Homo sapiens: one gene and its partners. The protein of the gene in region 2 interacts with the protein of the main gene of each other region in a pairwise test. Each region holds a gene or a part of one and is shown on either strand. Other genes may lie near its edges.

Region 1 (4,242 bases), on a different chromosome or scaffold from region 2:
GCAGCAGCTAATTATTCCCTAATATTGATTCTCTCTTCTCCCATACTACTAGAACCCCTGATTTTTAGCTGGGCATATGGTTACATAGACTATTCAATTTCCCACACTTCCTTACAGCTTCTTGTGGTCACGTGACTAAATTTGGAGCCACGGGATGTGGGAGACAGTGATCCAAGCAGCTGCTAGGTTGAGTCCTTTAAGACAAAAAGCATGTCCTGTCCTTCCTGCTTTGTTCATCCTCCCCGGGGATAGAATGTGACTGATGGTTAGTATCCTGGACCATGGAGATGAGGGCAACACCCTTGATGTAGAAGAGCAATAAGATGGAAGGAGCCTGGGGCTGTGATTGGAATTACCATGTGAGTCCTAGACTGCTTATCCTAGGAGCTCTTAAGTCAAAGAGGAATAAATTGTTCTGTATAAGCTATGCTTATTTTAGGTCTCTATTTCAGCAGCTAATTCATGAGAGTACGAATTTAAAAATACTTGTGAGGTTCAGTGTCAACTGAATGATACGAACAAGATGAGAAACATACTTTTAAAGATATTTAATGATGTTTTTCAAATCAGTACAAAAATTTAAATACAAAAATGATTTGCTATTGACAAGTCTCAAATCTGTCATGGGAACTCAAACAAGTTACCAGTCTGTTCACCGTTCATTGTATTCTATAAAATATTTGATAACAGTCACCCACTACAGACATTCTTTTCCCCTGTGGGATGTCATACTGCATTAAAACTCTGTATTTACATAACAATAATATGAGTTTGGTCCATTTCACATGGAAGAATTCTGGTTAATTTTGAACTAAATAGGGATTATAGCACAATCCCTAGACTTTAGAACACGTGGTTGTTTCATCTGCTTTTACACTAATATGTTAACATGTTGTGCAGCACTCAAAAGGGAAATACAGGCACATAGATAATTATTTAAAACTCTTTTTTAAATTAAATGGAGTATCATTTAGGTCTGAGATTAGCACCATTGTAGAATGCACAGTATTTGGCATAGATGTTGCTCCTCTTCTATCTAAAAGTTAGAAACCTATGTCTGATAATACACATACACACACATGCGCACGCATACACACACGTGCGCTCACGCGCACACACACACACACACACATATATATATATATATAGGCAATTGAGTGACAACCAATAAATAAGTTGGAAGATATTTTGAAAAGTGAAATTTGGTTTTAACTAAAAAGATAATTTCTCTCTTTCTTGGTGGGAATTAAAAGCCCATACATGTACAGATAAATACAATTTTACAAATCACCTGATCTGACTTGCTTTTAAACCATTTCAATGTGGCTGTTTAGCAGAAGGAGCCCAATGGATCCATGCTGCCCACCATAGTCATCAGCCCAAAACCAGTATCCTCAAGAACAACCCAAAGTATATTTGGCCACATAGATGCTGTCTGCTTTGAAAACAAAGGTTGTGGAGGACATCTTTTTGTTGGGAAAAGATTGTTGTATAATTAGTAGTGACAAGAACCCCTGTGGTAATGGACTAATTTCTCTTCTTAAAAATTGAGAAGAAATGGTGCTTGTATACTATATAGGGAAATGAGATATTGGCCAAGAGAAGAATTTTTGTGATGGTAATAATGATTCAGATTTGACAAAGACACATTTCCATGTGTTTTCATACCGTATTTATTTGTGTATTTTTCCATCTATATCTATCCCCTTAACTCATGGTTTTATTTTTGACAAAAATATACAAGATTCCACCACCATAACCCCACATTATTGCTCCAAGTGATAGAGTCAGCAGCAGGCTAATAGCAGGCTCGAAATGGGTCTTTGGTGTTTGGAGACCAGATTAGAATGCCCAAAGCAGTTAGTATGTGCCCAAGCAAAAACCTGGAAAAATATTTATTTCTGCTTTTCAGACTTGTATTGGCCTTTGATTTGTGCCGAGTACAGGATGACATTAAAAACACAGGCTCTTGTTGCCCTTTGACATTCTACATAGCCCTTCCACAGTCCGCTTCTAAGGAAACAGTTCTTTTCCTATACTTTTACTACCTACACCCAGAAGCAGCACATCTGTTTTTAAATTCGAAATTTCAGAATTATTTTTTCAAATATTAATTTTTCTATGTAATTCTGAAACTCCCCCCTCACCAATTATGGCTTGGATTTTGAAAGCTGACTTTGGCCGGGCACGGTGGCTCATGCCTGTAATCCCAGCACTTTGGAAGGCTGAGGCAGGTGCATCACTTGAGGCCAGGAGTTTGAGACCAGCCTGGCCAACATGGCGAAAACCCATCTTTACTAAATATACAAAAATTAGCCAGGCATGGTGGCGCAAGACAGTAGTCCCAGTACTCGGGAGGCTGAGACAGGACAATTGCTTGAACCTAGGAGGTAGAGGTTGCAGTAAGCCAAGATCGTGCTACTGCACTCCAGCCTGGGTGACAGAGTAAGACTCCATCTCAAAAAAAAAAGAAAAAAATTGACTTTGGAACCTCAGATTACATATCAGTTTGCATACATGCTAAACAGAGAAATGTCCTCAAAATTCAGTTACTAAAAATTACTGATATCTCCATGATTAGAACCACACTGTGGTTGTGTGTGTAGTCAAAGGAGGAGAATTTTTAATGCTATATAAGCATAACTGATAACTGCTATTACAAATAAATATTCCACAAATTTGGAAAGTTATTAGAGGAAGAATTTTTTTTCCTTGTAATTTCCAGGTGTTTATATTAGTTGGGCCATAGTGAAAATTACATGGAGGAAAGAAAATAGGAAAATAAGTCACAGAAAAAGAAAATCAAAACAAATAGAAACTCTGGGGAACAAGTGAGTTAATTACTGCTCATGTCTCCCATCCGGTTCTCTAGCTCCTTGAGGGTTACTGTCTAATGCTCCACAAAAGTGCCTTACCCAGTGCTTGGTACAGAGAAGGCACTGAATAAATTCACAAAGGCCGATTGGTTCACCCATTCTTTTAGAGACAACAGACACGCAATTCTGACGAGGACTCCTGTTACTAAAAGACACAGCCTCTGATACAAGAGAGATATCCCTTTGACTAAAGCATTACCAGGGTCCCCAGGGCCCCCTCCCACTGGGGCGGTAACACTACGGGTCTCCCCACCATATATTCCATGTCAAAGTATCTACACAAATACAGAGGAAATTAAGCAAGTAAATACGGTATGTAATTGTTATCATTTGTATTTCTTTAAGGCATATTTATAAATATTTTAAAGTAAACAATATGAGTGAGTGCCTTTCATTAGCTATGATCTTTCATACTGATATATTTTGACTGATCTGAATAAGCAGGTTACTGTGGAAGCATATAACATAAAACAGCTAATATGATTCCAGTGGGTACAACCAAGTGTCAGTACTTGATACATAACTCTATCCCATCATTCGCAATTACAGGCTGCTGTGTGGAGTATTAAACATGCATCTTAGTTTTTATTTGTACACAATGGTCCAAATTTTCACTTACATATAACTTTCCAACTGTGTAAGTGTTTTGAAGCAATTATGTTTTTCATTTGGATTTTTTGGTGTGTCATTTTCTTCTATAAAATCTCTTTCTTTTCTTTGTTTTTTGTTTTTTTGTTTTTACATGGGATACAATAAATATCCTGAAAAGGAGGAGTGGACATACTGCCCGGCATACAGTCCTGCAGCCTGTTCTGAGGGCATCTGGAGGAACACCCGGTCTCCGGGCCTGAGCAGCAGCACTGCACTCCCAGATGCCTGGTCCAGGAAGCCCTTTTTGTACTCGTCGTACGTGTACATCACGGGCTCGTTGTTCTTGAATAGAGCAACCCACACGTTGCCCCCCTTGCAGTGAACGTGGTATGCAAAGTAGTAGACACCAGGGACCTCACAGGTGAAGATGCCTGTCTGCGGGTTGTAGTTCTGTCTGCCGTTATACAGCAGTTTGTTAAACTTCACTGGGGCCCCCACCGGTGGGAAAGGTGCGGTTAGCTCGGCGGTAAATGCAGGCATCTCATAGGCTGGCCCTCCATTCTTGCCTTTCTTAGCCCCGTAGGCATGGGGGGGTTTCACGCCATCAATTCCCAGCCCCATATCTGGCAGATACTCTCCCTGGGGTGGTGGTGTAGGGGGCATCACAGCTGGGGGTCCTGGAGGTCCTGGAGGGCCTGGGGGTCCTGGAAGGCCAGGCTGGCCTTGAGGACCAAGGGCACCAGGCTTCCCTGGGGGGCCATGAAGTCCTGCCACT
Region 2 (7,855 bases):
ATGAACTAAATGTGCCAGTACCAGAAATTCCAGGAAAAACAAGAAATTTGTTTTTGCAATTAGCCGAGCATGTAACCCAGTCTCTCAATGTCACTTCACGTTATGTACGTGGAGAAACTGTAATAGGAGATCAATGGCCACAGGAAGCCCAAGAATTAGTACCTACAGACCAAGTTCCTGATGAATTCCCAGCTCAAAAGAATCACCCTGATAATTTCTAGGTCCTAAAAGCCTCAATTATTGGACAATATTGCATAGCTAGAGAAGGAAGAGAATTCACTCACCCCGTAGGATGACTTAGTTGTCTGAGACAGAAAGTGTATAATGGCACCACAAAAACAGTCACTTGGTGGAGTTCAAGTCACACAGAGAGAAATCCATTTAGTAAATTCCCAAAGTTGCAAACTGTGTGGACCCACCCGGAGTCCCACCGGGACTGGACAGCCCCCACTAGATTGTACTGGATATGTAGGCATAGAGCTTATGCCAAATTACCCGACCAGCAGGCAGGTAGTTGTGTTACTGGCACTATTAAACCATCTTTCTTCCTACTGCCCATAAAAACAGGCGAAATCCTAGGCTTCCCTGTCTATGCTTCCCACGAAAAGAGAAGCATAGCTATAAGAAATTGAAAACATGATAAATGGCCCCCTAAGAGAATCATGCAATATTATAGGCCTGCTACTTAGGCACAAGACGGCTCGTGAGGATACCAGACCCCCATTTGCATGATCAACTGAATCATACGGTTACAAGCTGTCTTAAAAATAACCACTAATAAAACTGGCAGAGCCTTGACTCTTCTGGCCCGGCAATAAACTCAGATGAGAAATGCTATCTATCGAAATAGATTAGCTCTCGACTACTTGCTAGCAGCTGAAGGTGAGGTCTGTAGGAAATTTAACCATACTAATTACTGCCTATACATAGATAATCAAGGGCAAGTAGTTGAAGACATAGTTACAGATATAACAAAATTGACACATGTGCCCGTACAAGTGTGGCATGGATTTGATCCTGAGGCCATGTTTAGAAAATGGTTCCCAGCACTACGAAGATTTAAAACTCTTATAATAAAAGTTATAATAGTAATAGGAACCTGCTTACTGCTCCCTTGTTTGCTACCTGTACTTCTTCAAATGATAAAAAGTTTCATCGCTACCTTAGTTCACCAAAATGCTTCAGCAGAAGTGTACTATATGAATGAATCACTATCGATCTGTCTTGCAGGAAGACATAGATAAGAAAATGAAAGTGAAAACTCCTACTATTGAGTGAGAGTCTCAAAGGGGAGGAATAAGGCAGGAGACCACCCCTCATATTGTCTTATGCCCAATTTCTGCCTCTAAAGAAAGAAAAAGTAAAAACTAAAAGGCAGAAATGAAATCCACAAGCAGACAGCCCGGCCCCACACCCTAGGCCTGGTAGTTAAAGATCGACCTCTGACCTAATCAGTTATGTTATCTATAGATTACAGACACTGTATAGAAAAGCACTGTGAAAATCCCTATCCTGTTTTGTTCCGGTCTAATTACTGGTGCATGCAGCCTCCACTCACGTACCCCCTGCTTGCTCAATCGATCACGACCCTCTCACGTACACCCCCTTAGAGTTGTGAGCCCTTAAAAAGGACAGGAATTGCTCACTCGGGGTGCTTGGCCCTTGAGACAGGAGACTTGCTGATGCCCCCGGCCAGATAAACCCCTTCCTTCAACTCGGAGTCTGAGGAGTTTTGTCTGCGGCTCATCCTGCTACAGGCTCATTGCAAGTTCCGCCTCCTGGATTCACGCCATTCTCCTGCCTCAGCCTCCCAAGTAGCTGGGACTACAGGCGCACACCATCATGCCCAGCATTTTTTTTTTTTTTTTTTTAGTAGAGACGGGGTTTCACCGTGTTAGCCAGGACGGTCTCAATCTCCTGACCTCATGATCTGTCTGCCTTGGCCTCCCAGAGTGCTGGAATTACAGGCCTGAGCCACCGCGCGGCCATTTTCAATTTTAAAAAACTTTTTTATTACAGAAATGTTCACATATACACTAAAGTAGACAAGCTAATATAAAGAATGTAATGTATTTATGAGGTAGTTTCAAGTTATCAACCCACATTCCCCACCCCTACATTTTAAAGTAAATTTCAGTGATGTCATTTAGTGTACAGATAGTTGCCTAGGGACCTTTAAAATTTGTTCTTTCTTTTTTCTTTTTTTTTTTTTTTTGAATCGGGGTCTCACTCTGTCACCCAGGCTGCAGTGCAGTGGTGCAATTATAGCTGGCTGGAACTACAGGTGCACGCCACCATGCCCAGCTAATTTTTAATTTTTTTTTTTTGTAGAGACAAGGCAGGGGGGTCTCCCTTTTCTTCCCAGGCTGGTCTTGGACTCCTAACCTCAAGGGATCCTCCTGCTTCGACCTCCAAAAGTGCTGGGATTACAGGTGTGAGCCACCATGCCCAAATTTGTACATTCTTTTGGTGTACATATAAGAATACATTTGTAAGATAAATTCCAAAATATGAATATCTTGGGTCAAAGAAGAGCTGAATTTTACATTGATAGCTATTGCCCACTTGTTCTTTACAAAGCGTGTATGGATTTATACTCCTATCAACAATAAATTAGCCAGGCATGCTGACGTGCACTCGTAAACCCTGCTATTCAAAAGGATAGTTGAAGTCCAAGAGTTCAAGACCAGTGTGGGTAACATAGAGAGGCCTCCTCTAGGGGAGGAAAAAAGGGTTTCCCTATATCCTCATCAAAACAATATATAGTCAAACTTTTCATCTTTGCATTTGTGAAAAATTGTATTTTATTTTTGTTTTATGATACTTTAAGAAATCATTTGTATTTTTCTGTAGAAACCTGTTTTTCTCTGAGTTGAACATTTTTGTACTGATTTTTTTAATAATTAGAACTTTTTTAATAATTTAGAACTTTTTGTCATACATTTTACAAATATTTTTCTTGGTTGGGGTTTGTTATATTTATTTGCTATGCAGAAAATTTAGATTTCTATGTAGTTACATTTATCAATTTTTATTTATTTATTTAGAGACAGAGTCTTGCTCTGTCGCCCAGGCTGGACTGCAATGGCGCGATCTCGGCTCACTGCAACCTCTGTCTCCCAGGTTCAAGTAATTCTCCTGCCTCAGCCTCCCAAGTAGCTGGGATTACAGGAACCCCGCCACCACAACCGGTGAAATTTTTGTATTTTTATTAGAGACGGGGTTTCACCATGTTGGTCAGGCTGGTCTCAAACTCCTGACCTCAGGTGATCCACTCACCTCAGCCTCTCCAAGTGCTGGGATTACACGCGTGAGTCACCGTGCCCGGCCTACATTTATCAATTTTTAATTTTATGGTTTATATGCTCTTTGAAAAGTCTCTCACCACTCCAACCTTACTTTTGTTTTTTTCCCTTGTTTTCTTCTGGTATTTTCATAACCTCTCTCTTTTTTTTTTTTTTTTTTTTTGTTTTTTGAACATTTAACTATTTGCTTTGTTTGGAATTTACTTTCATGTGAGGACATCAAATAGATCCAGTGTTTTCCTCCGACATGCCTCGACTGGCAGGAGACCAAAGTTTTCATTCTATTACTAGAGAGTAGCTATAGTTACAGAATCAGGTATCCTGAGAGAGATCATTTATGCCCAGGATGAATAACTTGTCTTATCTATTAAATCTATTAAATCCTTTGGAGATTTCACTTTTTTTTTTTTTTTTTTTTGGGACGGAGCCTGTTACCTAGGCTGGAGTGCAGTGGCGCGATCTCCCAGCTCACCACAAGCTCCGCCTCCCAAGTTCAAGCGATTCTCCTGCCTCAGCCTCTCGAGTAGCTGGGATTACAGGCATGTGCCACCACCACGCCCGGCTAATTTTGTATTTTTAGTAGAGACGGGGTTTCTCCATGTTGGTCAGGCTGGTCTCGAACTCCTGACCTCAGGTGATCCGCCTGCCTCAGCCTCCCAAAGTGCTGGGATTACAGGCGTGAGCCACTGCGCCGGCCCCAAAATTTCAGGTTTTGATAGACGGAATGGGTGAAGAAAATGAGAGCTAGCAAGGAAGAACAGGATGCAGAGGCAAGACTGGAAACTCTCCAAGAAAGGTTAACTTTTCTTAACTCACAAGTTAAACAAAGGCTGCAGGCTCCATGCGGAGCTCAGGCACCCAGCGGTGACCGATCCAGACCAGGTCCTCCCGGAAGCCCGGCCTGCCCGACAGAGCCTTACCACAGAGCCCCCTCAGGCGTCCTCGCCAGGACGGGGCGGAACCCTGTGTAGCTCCCACCCCCGGGACGAAGGCCGCTGCCAGGGCCGCGCAGCCACGCGAGTGGAATCAGAGGAGCCTCGAGGCAAGGAGAGCCGGGCCCCGCTCCCTGCGCCCGTCACCGCCATCCTTGTTGTAGGGAACTCGGCCCCCGAGCCGCCGCCGCGCTCCGTGGGCTCCCAATGAGCCCCTACCCCAGCCACCCGCTGCGTTTGCGCCAGCCTCCCAGACTAGCCTGGGGTGCTGAAATGGGGGCGGGCCCGAGCCACGGGTTGGGGCGGGGTCTGATGCGCGCCCCGCCCCGCAACGCCCCGCCCCCCCGCGCCTACCTCTCCAGTCCGCGCCCTTCGGCGCCCGCCCCGCCAGTCCCCGCCCCTCCTTGCCCAGCCGCTCCCGCCCCTCCCCCGCCTTCCCGCGCGGCCCGCCTCGCCTTCCCCCCCCTCCCGCGCCCCCGCGCGGCCGGCCCCTGGCCTTCCTCCCCTTCCTGCTCCGGGCCCGCCAGTAGCCGGCCGCGGCGGCGAGGGACTAGGACGCGGCTGGAGCGGCGCCGGGAGACGAGGGGCTGAGAGACGGCGGCGGCCGAAAGCGGAGAGATGCTGGGCGTGGCGGCCGGGATGACCCACAGGTACGGGCCGCACCGCGCGGCCCCCGCCACGTCCGCCCCGCAGCTCCCGGCGGGCCTTCGGGCCGGGCCGGGCCGGGCCTGGCGCGGGCGGGCGGCCGGGCTTTCCCCGCGGCCTCCCCCGGTCGGCCGGAGCCCCGACCCCCAGCGCTCGGGTGGCGGCGTGGCTGCGTCCGGGCCCGCGGAGGAGACGGCTGCTGTTCACTCCCGGGTGTCCGCGGTGGCACAGGCGCTGACGCCGCCCCGCTGCTCCGAGAGTTCCATAAGACAAATCAGTATTTGCCGAGCTAATCATTTATCTTCTAGCAGTAGGGATCAGCGGGTCGCAGACGTCTTGGTCTCAGGACCCCTCTTGGGACTAGAGGACCTGGAATGGTGGCTATCTCCATAGACTGTACTAGAAAGGAAAACCGAGACACTGAAGTTACTATTAACTCATTGAATAAATCCGTGGTATGTTAACGTACATACCACATTTTTATGCAACATAGGGTTTTGCTAAAACAAAAGAGTTCGTGGGACGACTGGCGTCCTTTACAGTTTGCGAATCTCTTGAGTTGTCTGACTTAGTAGAGACAACTACGTTCTCCCATCTCCTTTGCAGTTCAGTCTGTTGCGGTATGTTTTTATATGAAGAAAATCTGATCTTACACAGATGTGTAGTTGGAAAAGTGAGTACTGTCTTAATAGCTGTTTCAGATAATTATGGGTATTCTTTATTACTACACCAAAACTACGTAAGTGGAAGTTTCTCAAAGGCTGGTTTGGACGTGGAATCTGAAGCTACTGTCAGCGGACTTTTCACACAGTTTCGTTAAAATTCCTTGGTCTGTCTTGCAGTTTGAATGCAGCTAAAGCTCCTGTCAGTGGCCTTTGCACACAGTTACGTTAAAATTCCTTGGTCTGTCTTGCAGTTTGAATGCAGCTGTTACCCATTGTAACACCATATATTTGTCGTTTGGAAGATATTGGCTCACTGAGTTTGGCAGATCTCAAGCTGACGCATTTCATTAATAGCGCCGAATAACATTCGTTACCATCGCTATTGATTTCATTAGGAAAGTCTTTATGTTAAAAGCCGTCAGATACAAGGTGGTGTTTACAAGTTTTCCAAAATTCTCATTTTCGGTTGAAAGCTTGCTTTTTATCATTGGGAGCAAAATATTGTCAATTGTTTTCCTCAAAGTGACAGACTCACTTTGTTCAGTTTCAAGGAAGTGTCCGGCAATACAGGTTTAAATAACCCTAGTTTGTCAGTTGTTCTTTCCCGTAAAAATGGTATTTCATGACACAAGCAAGTTAATTCAGCTCATCGCTCTATTACAGAAGTGCACGCCTGCCATTTGGTCACAAGTAACAAAAAAGAGTCAAAGCTCAAGATTTGATAACAATAATTTGTACTCCTTCATCATGGACTTTTTTCCTTAAAAAAAAGTATTGACTAGTAAGTTGATATAAAATTTAAAGTATTTGTGAGATATTAAGAATAACGGATATGTAGTGTAATAAAGGAGATAATAGTTTCCTTTTAAGACCTTCAAACCTCTCTGGTCCAGTGTCTCTCCGCATCCTATCCCCTTCCCATCCTGAATTTACCATTAGTAATTTACTTTTTGGAGGGAGAGTAATAAGTTCATTCAAATTATTGTGCATCCGTAACCATCATACATGTCCAGAAATCTTTATCTTACAAAACTGAAACTCTGTACCTATTAAACAATAATTCTCCATTCCCCTCCTCCCGCCAGTCCCTGGCAGCCATCATTTTAATTTCTGTCTATGACTTTGACTACTGCTGGTACCTCATATCTCATGTAAGTGGAATCATACGCTATTTGTTGTGCATGTCATAGTTTGTTCCTTTTTGTTGCTCAGTAGTGCTCCATGGTATGGATGTACAGCAGTTTAACTGTTCACATGTTTGAAGGACATTCAGGCTGTTAGTTTTGGGCTATTAAGAAAGCTACTACGAACAAATAGACAGGTGTTTGTTGTTGTTTTTGAGACAGTGTCTTGCTTAGTCACCCAGACTGGAGTGGAATGCAGTAGCATGATCATGACTTACTGCACCCTAGACCTCCCAGGCTGAAGCAATCCTTCCACCTCAGTCCCCCAAGTAGCTGGGACTACAGACACACGCCACCATGCCTGGATAATTTTTGTATTTTTTTGGTAGAAACAGGGTTTCGCCATGTTGTCCAGGCTAGTCTGGGGGTCCCAAACTCCTGGGTTCCAGCAGTCCACCCACCTCAGCCTCCCAAAGTGCTGGAATTTTAGAGCCACTGTGCTCAGCCTGTCTAAGTTTTATGTGAATGTAACTTTTCCTTTTCTGGGATAAATGTCCAAGAGTGTGCAATTGGCAGGTTGTACAGAAATCGTATGTTTAGTTTTTTGAGAAACTGACAGTTTTTTTCCAGCATGACTGTACCATTTCACTTAAAAAGTGAAATTGACATTATTTTCCTGTGAGTACATAAAGGTAAAGAATTCAGGGACAGTACCACGGCCCTCTTTAGTGCTAAGCGGCCAGCAGTTGTACCGACTGTTGTTTTTGCACTATCTGTGTGTCAACACAGTCCACAATGCTACAGTGACTTCTTAGGAATATCTTAGTATGATGAAAATAGTTTTGATCTCTCGGATCCCTTAGAAAGGTCTTGGAGACCCTCAGGAGTTCAAGGCCATACTTTAAGAACCACTGTTAAAGACATAATCCTAAATGATGAAGGATATGCAGGTATTGGGGATATTTAAAAAGGAACAAATACAAGGTTTCTCTTAAAATTGCTCTTGAATGCTTGTGGTAGTGTGTGCCTTGTAGTTTTGGCTAGTTTTAGTAGGATGTAATAACTAAGACTTGGACCACCATGGAAGAAGCAACTTTCTGCCTTTCAGGATTTTCCCTGATAAGAAAATGGCCAGTGCCATTATGAAGAGGGACAATGCCATGGGCCTAAGTGTATTCACACTT
Region 3 (7,244 bases), on a different chromosome or scaffold from region 2:
CTTCCTGGTCTAAAGCAAGGCGGCCGAGCCTGTGTCCCTAGACCGCCTCCAGGGCCCTCTGCACCCTGACGCCCCATCGCGACCGCCCCGCTTCCCGCCCGCCGCTCCCGCAGCCACCTGGAGGCGCTGCGTCTCGGCTGGGGCTTCGTCTGTGCCCGGCACAGCGAGGGCCCCGGTGTCTGCGGGGCAGGGGCCGCGGCCTGTCCCGGGACATCCCCGCCCTCCAGCTCACCTGCCTGCTTGGGACTCGGCAAGCCGGCCGCACTCTGCGTCTCACCGCGCTCTCTGTACCATTTTACATTTCCACCACCAAAGTAGGAGTAGGAGTAGGAGTAGAATCCAGTTTCTCTTATGTCCTCCCCAGCACTGGTATAATCCTTCCTTCCTTCCTTCCTTCCTTTCTTTCTTTCTTCCTTCCTTCTTCTTTCTCTTTCTCTCTCTTTCCTTCCCTCCCTTCTTTCTTTCTCTCTCTCTTTTTTTTTTTTTTTTTGAGATGGAGTCTCACTCTGTCACCCAGGCTGGAGTGCAGTGGCACGATCTTGACTCACTGCAACCTCCACCTCCCAGGTTCAAGTGATTCTCGTGCCTCAGCCTCCCGAGTAGCTGGGAGTACAGGCGCCCGCCACCACGCCCAGCTAATTTTTTGTATTTTTAGTAGAGACGGGATTTCGCCATGTTGGCCAGGCTGGTCTCGAACTCCCGAGCTCAGGCAATCCACCCACCCCGGCCTCCCAAAGTGCTGGGATTACAGGCGTGAGCCACCGCACTGCACCCGGCCCTCCCTCTTTCTCTCTTTCTTTTCTCTCCTCTCCTCTCTCTTTCTTTCTTTTTCTTTCTCTCTCTCTCCCCCTCCCTCCCTCCCTCTCTTTCTTTCTTTCTTTCGACAGGGTCTTGCTCTGTCACCCAGGCTGAAGTGCAGTGGCAAGATCTCGGCTCACTGCAACCTCTGCCTGGTGGGTTCAATGATTCTCCTGCCTCAGCCTCCTGAGTAGCTGGGATTACAGGCATGTACCACCACACCATGTGCTGCCACGCCATGTGACGCCACACCTAAAACAGTTTTAAAGAAAGGAGACAAAAAATTATTAGGCTGGGCACAGTGGCTCTTGCCTGTAATCCCATCACTTTGGGAGGCGGAGGCGGGTGGATCTCTTGATGTCAGGAGCTCAGGACCAGTCTGGCCAATATGGTGAAACCCCATCTCTACTAAAAATACAAAAATTAGCCAGGCTTAGTGGCACACACTTGTAATCCCAGCTACTCAGGAGGCTGGGGCAGGAGAATCGCTTGAACCCTAGGAGTCGGAAGTTGCAGTGAGCAACTTGAGATCTCGCCACTGCACTCCAGCCTGGCGACAGAGCAAGACTCCGTCTCAAAATAATAATAATAATACATAAAAAGAAAAATATTTTTTTCTGAGACGGAGTCTCACTCTGTCGGCCAGGCTGCAGTGCAGTAGTGATCTCGGCTCACTGCAACCTCTGCCTCCTGGGTTCAAGTGATTCTCCTGGCTCAGCCTCCCAAGTAGCTGGGACTACAAGTAGCTGGGACTACAGGCACGCGCCACCACGCCCAGCTAATTTTTGTATTTTTAGTAGAGACGGGGGTTTCACCATGTTGGCCAGGAGGGTCTCGATCTCTTGACCTCATGATCCGCCCACCTCAGCCTCCTGAAGTGCTGGGATTATAGGCATGAGCCACCGCGTCCGGCCTTTTTATTTATTTTTCATAGAGATGGGGTCTCGACATCTTTCCCAGGCTGGTCTTGAATTCCTGGGCTCGAGCAATCCTCCCTCCGCAGCCTCCCAAAGTGCTGGGATTACAGGCGTGAACCACTGCATCCAACCCCTGTCCAGATAATTTTTGGCTTCTGTGTAGCATTCCTTTCCCCAGCGTACAGGACAGGACACTCTTTGGAGTGAGAGTCTTATGACCCACGATCACATTAGAGTTCTGCAGTGGACAGGTGAATGGGGGGCAGGAGAAGGTCAGAGAGAGAGAGTTTCTGTTTACTGTAACAAGGACTATGGGAGTTATGAGTCAGGAAGCATGGATGGAAACCAATGTATAAATCATAATAGCATAGCTGATATCTTTGTTTTCTCAAAGGAATCATTACTTGCCAGTTTTAAAATCCATATAAAGTATTTTAGAATTTTTTGTCTTCCAGCTTATACATAACCACAGAAGGAAAGCAGGAACTCTGCTAGTTTCTTAAAAACAAACAAACAGCAAAGGGGATTGAAGGTCTTTTTTCTTACCTAAGTGGATCAGTGTTGGTGAGAAGCAAGTGAATAAACTGCAGTGGGCAGGAGAGCCTGAGACCAGTCTGGAGCCTGCAAAGAGAGGGAAAGGGTGCTTCTTGGGCAGCCTGCCCGCCCTTGCAGGTGGCCTCCAGCTGCTCAGGAGTGCAGATTCTTTTTTTAATTTTAATTTTATTTTTTACTTTTATTATTTTTTTGAGGCAGAGTCTCACTGTTTTGGCACCCAGGCTGGAGTGCAGTGGCGCAGTCTGGGCTTACTGCAACCTCTGCCTCCCGGGTTCAAGCGGTTCTCCTGCCTCAGCCTCCCGAGTGGCTGGGATTACAGGCACGCGCCACCACGCCCGGCTAATTTTTGTATTTTTACTATAGACGAGGTTTCACCATTTGGCCAGGCTGGTCTCGAACTCCTGACCTCAGGTGATCCGCCCGCCTGGGCCTCTCAAAGTGCTGGCGTGAGCCACCGCGCCTGGCCAGGAATGTGGATTCTGAGAAGCTGCAGAGCTGTGAAAAGCAGGAGACCCATGTGCAGATGTGGTTGGGTTGGGGGTGGAGGGTTCTGTCTTTTCTGAGGTTGTACCTTTGGCGCCTGGGGCCATTTCCTGGACAGTGTTTTGGTTTTAGCATTCATGGGGTCGCTGAGTCAGGCTGTAATTTGTATACATGAAGAAAATCTGTGAGGGTCAGACTCAGTGAAAAACTTGTTTGCATTGTCCCCTGGAGAAAAGGTTTGGGAACATGACAATTTATTTAGGTCACGACTTTACATTGACTCCGGGTGAGAGTTTCCTGCTGGTACAAATGAAGGTTTTGAAGGAAAGAGTGTTTCCACACTGTGAGGAGAGGACTGGAGGGCACCTTGAGCTCCCAAAGTTGAATTCTTAAGTGTCCCTGTCTCATCACCAGGTTCTGATCCACACTGGGGTTCCATTTCAGCAGTTAGAGTCTGGGTCCCAAGCTTGGGATTATTTTATTTTATATTTCATTTCTTCATTTCATTATTTCATTTCATTTCATATTTCATTTTTTAGTCTCGCTCTGTCGCCCAGGCTGGAGTGCAATGGCGCTATCTCGGCTCACTGCAACTTCCCCCTCCCAGGTTCAAGCGATTCTCGTACCTCAGCTTCCCGAGTTGCTGGGATTACAGGCACCTGCCACCACGCCTGGCTAATTTTTGTATTTTTAGTAGAGATGGGGTTTCACCATGTTGGTTAGGCTGGTCTTGAACTCCTGACCTTAAGCAATTTTCTCACCTTGGCCTTCCAAAGTTCTGGGATTACAGGCGTGAGCCACCGCGCCCGGCGCTTGGGAATATTTTTAACGTTATGATTGTGGGTTTTCCTTGTGAACTGCGGGTGAAGCAGGCTGCTTGTCTGAGCTAGTTCAAATGTTTGCTTACTTCTCTTGGTTTCTTTATAGATGATCGCTGTCATAAAAACTCCAGTTTTTCCTATACATTTAATACTTTTATTTCTTTGTCCGTTTTAATTTTCTTGCCTGAAAGAAGCAAGCCCTCCTCCCTCCTGTTACACTGTGGTCTGGCCTGGCCTGGGCGCGCCTCCTACTCCGAGGCCAGGGGATGGCTCCACTGGACGCCGAGTCTGTCATTCCCTGTGCACACTTGTGACTCTGTGTCCGGGAGGAAAAGGCAGGAAGGGCACCCTGAGTGCAGAAACACGCCAGTGTCACCTCTGCAGAGCCTGAAACACTTTCTGCTTAAATGCAAATATCCTCCCCGGCACAGAAGGTTACAGAAGGAGGAAGCCCGGCCCGCGAAGGGCAGTGGCCAAGACCCTGTCAATCTGTCTTTACTCAGCCACATACCGCATTGCTTCTCCTGTCACTCAGTACCAAGGGGGCAGGACTTGAATCATCACCCAATCAGGGGCACTGGGGCGGGAACCTGCAAACCATCCAATCAGGAACTCTGCAAGGGGGACAGGGGCAATGTTCAACAACTCCGCGGGGTCTTCCTGTTTCGTGTCCGCTGCGTTTGGGTTCCGGTCTCCGCTTCTCCAGTGGCCCCGGTGGCTCCACCGCAGCGTCTGGCGCGCTGGGACCTGCACAGGCCGGAGAGAGCCGTAGGCAGGACCCCGGGACACCCTGGAAGCCAGGAAATGGTGCGTGTGCGGGGCCGGGCGCCTGGAGACTGGGGGAGGGGCTTGTGGGAACCGGCCGGAACCGGCTGTGGAAGCACCCTGGCCTCCCTGCAGCGACTCCAGGGTCTGGGACCCGAGTTCCCTGGCGCAGCTCGGCCCTCTGTCCCCTCGGCCGCAGGGTGGGTTGGGCCGTAGCCAGTACCCCAGGCGTCCTGTCCCGTCCCTGCGCGGCGACTGCGGCCTCGGCCTCGGAGCCCTGTCTGGGCAGCTCCGCGCCCGCAGCCCCGCCTCTCTCCAGATTGTTTGTACTGGGACACGGGAGGGTCATAAGGCGGAATCCCGTCTCGGGTGTGCGGTTCGTGCATGGGAAGAGCTGTGGGCTGTGGCCTTCCCAGTACATCGTCTTTTTTTCCGGGGGACTGGTCTTCCTCCGAGTCTTCCAAACGTACTGGAAAAAGAATCTCAAACCTACGACTCCCGTTTTTTTTAGCCTAGCTTTTTCTGGGGCTGGAAATAAATGCCTAAATTTCCGGTTCCTTCCCCGCATTCCCAAAGGTGACCTCCCCTCGCCAAATCAACATTATCAGCTGTTTTTTGTTTGACATTTAAGACACAGTATTTTAGTTGTTTATAGTTTCTTTCACCATACTCTTTTGAAAGGATTTGTTTTCTGTTTGTTGTTTTTTTTTTCTTTTCAGACAGAGTTTCGCTCTGTCGCCCAGGCTGGAGTGCAGTGGGAAGATCTCAGCTCACTGCAACCTTCGCCTTCCGGGTTCAAGCAATTCTCCTGCCTCAGCCTCCTGAGTAACTGGGATTACAGGCATGCGCCGCCACGACCGGCTACTTTTTGTATTTTTGGTAGAAACTGGGTTTCTCCATGTTGGCCAGGTTGGTCTCAAACTCCAGACCTCAGGTGATCCGCTCACCTCCGCCTCCCAAAATGCTGGTATTACAGACGTGAGCCACCGCGCCCGGCCTCTTGTTTGTGTACTTGTAACCTGAGAGGGAAACGGAGAATAAGAACCTGACACTCTACGGTAAAATTTTTTTTTTTTTTTGAGACAGAGTTTCGCTCTTATTGCCCAGGCTGGAGTGCAATGGCGCGATCTCAGCTCACTGCAACCTCCACCTCCTGGGTTCAAGCGATTCTCCTGCCTCAGCCTCCCGTGTAACTGGGATTACAGGCATGCGCCACCATGCCCGGCTAATTTTGTATTTTTAGTAGAGACAGGGTTTCTCCATGTTGGCCAGGCTGGTCTCGAACTCCCGACCTCAGGTGATCCGCCTGCCTCGGCCTCCCAAAGTGCTGGGATTACAGGCGTGAGCCACCGCGCCCGGCCGTGGTAAAAAAATTTTTGTGCTTCCCCTCCTTTTATCTTTCCTAAGCCCCGACGCCTAATCAGAATGTCTTTGGGTGGAGTTTCCCCTTTGGAAACTTTACAAGGTGATGTGGCCCTCTATCTTTTCCTGGTCCTGATTTTCAGAACTGCCTGGGCCTGACCCAGGATACCCACAGCTGCCACTTCTCTTGGAGGATCTAGTGATTATCAACCCCTGGGTCACTCCTCCCAGAGGACAGCTTAAGGTGTAGGGGTGGGGCCTCTCACGGGAGCAGCTGTATGCCCTGAGGTGGGAGGAGTCTCCCGGTATCCCCTTCCTCTGAAAAGTTTACCCTTTGGGACGCTCAGCTTTTCTTCCTCAACCCCAGTTTCCGTTCCTTAGGGACACATTGATGGTTACCCAATCTTAGGCTGTTACTGAGAGGAAAAGACACAAATGATTCCTGACCTCTGGATTGTTTTTAGTCTAGTGAAGGGAGGAAAACTATCTCAAAGGAGAAGGAAAACCTGCCCCATTGAAATGGTGCGAGAACCTGAAAGTTAAAATGCGCTTGGGGCAGAGTGAGCAGGGCACAATTCACTGTCTTCAGGGAGGTTGGTCACTGAGCACTCAGTGAGCCAGGGTGGGGCTGGGAGATGTCCTAGGGGATAGGGTGACCTCACCTGACATTGGAATCAGATAAATGTCTGTATTCCAGGTCAGCATTGCCTCTCCCTGGGTTTGTAAACCCTTGAAAAGGTTTATTTGCTTATTTGATCCTGTTTTTCATTAAATGTAGAATGTATTTTATCAGTAGTGCTTGAAAGACAAGATAAAGTGTTTGCAAAGGGAGGGTCACAAAGGGGAGAAAGAGGCAGAAAGTAGATTTGAGGGAAAACAATTATCTAGTCTTACATTCAATTTGTTAAAAAATCTTATTTGTGTAGTTTCCTCTCCGCAACATGTATGGTAGGTTTCTCAGGTCTATTTTCTTCTTTTGGGTGATTTCAGATCAATCCCAGAACTTAGCCTTGAGAATGCTACTGCGGATAAGAATCTCAGATAAGTAGGGAAATTCAGTCTTCCATTATGGCTACAGAGAAACGAATACATTTCCACATTAATTGGTGAAATACAGAGATTCTCTAAAATATCTTCTCCTTTGCAGGGTAGAGATTTTGTCGTAATGGATAACTGTTCTGTATCCTTTCATCTGGACTTTGGTGATTAATGCTAAATCCTATCAGATGGGACTTTGAAATATTAAATATTAGTGAATTAAATATTAGTAAAGAAGTTGTCATGGAAGTAACAATAATGTGAGGTCTCTATTGTCTGAAAGGGATAGATAAATGTGCTTTTCATGTTTAAGCTATAGAATACAAATGTCTTGCCAGCCGCGATGGCTGACGCCTGTTATCCCAGCACCAAGGCAGGTGGATCACGAGGTCAGGAGATCGCGACCATCCTGGCTAACATGGTGAAACCCCGTCTCTACTAAAAAATACAAAAAATTGGCCGGGCACGGTGGCTCACGCCTTTAATCCCAGCACTTTGGGAGGCC

What was found.
Region 1: the proteins of LIMS1 (region 2) and COL8A1 interact in binary tests that used the Homo sapiens proteins (3 or more experiments, as listed by UniProt).
Region 3: the proteins of LIMS1 (region 2) and ZNF564 interact in binary tests that used the Homo sapiens proteins (3 or more experiments, as listed by UniProt).

What each region holds. Positions count from the first base shown.
Region 1 is NC_000003.12:99,795,509-99,799,750, reverse strand, and holds the end of COL8A1 (collagen alpha-1(VIII) chain precursor), read right to left. Parts: coding exon 3,615-4,242; 3' UTR 534-3,614; downstream 1-533. UniProt on the Homo sapiens protein: Macromolecular component of the subendothelium. Major component of the Descemet's membrane (basement membrane) of corneal endothelial cells. Also a component of the endothelia of blood vessels.
Region 2 is NC_000002.12:108,529,708-108,537,562, forward strand, and holds the start of LIMS1 (LIM and senescent cell antigen-like-containing domain protein 1), read left to right. Parts: upstream 1-4,762; 5' UTR 4,763-4,855; coding exon 4,856-4,887; intron 4,888-7,855. UniProt on the Homo sapiens protein: Within the IPP (ILK-PINCH-PARVIN) complex, binds to F-actin, promoting F-actin bundling, a process required to generate force for actin cytoskeleton reorganization and subsequent dynamic cell adhesion events such as cell spreading and migration.
Region 3 is NC_000019.10:12,548,467-12,555,710, reverse strand, and holds the start of ZNF564 (zinc finger protein 564), read left to right. Parts: upstream 1-4,228; 5' UTR 4,229-4,378; coding exon 4,379-4,381; intron 4,382-7,244.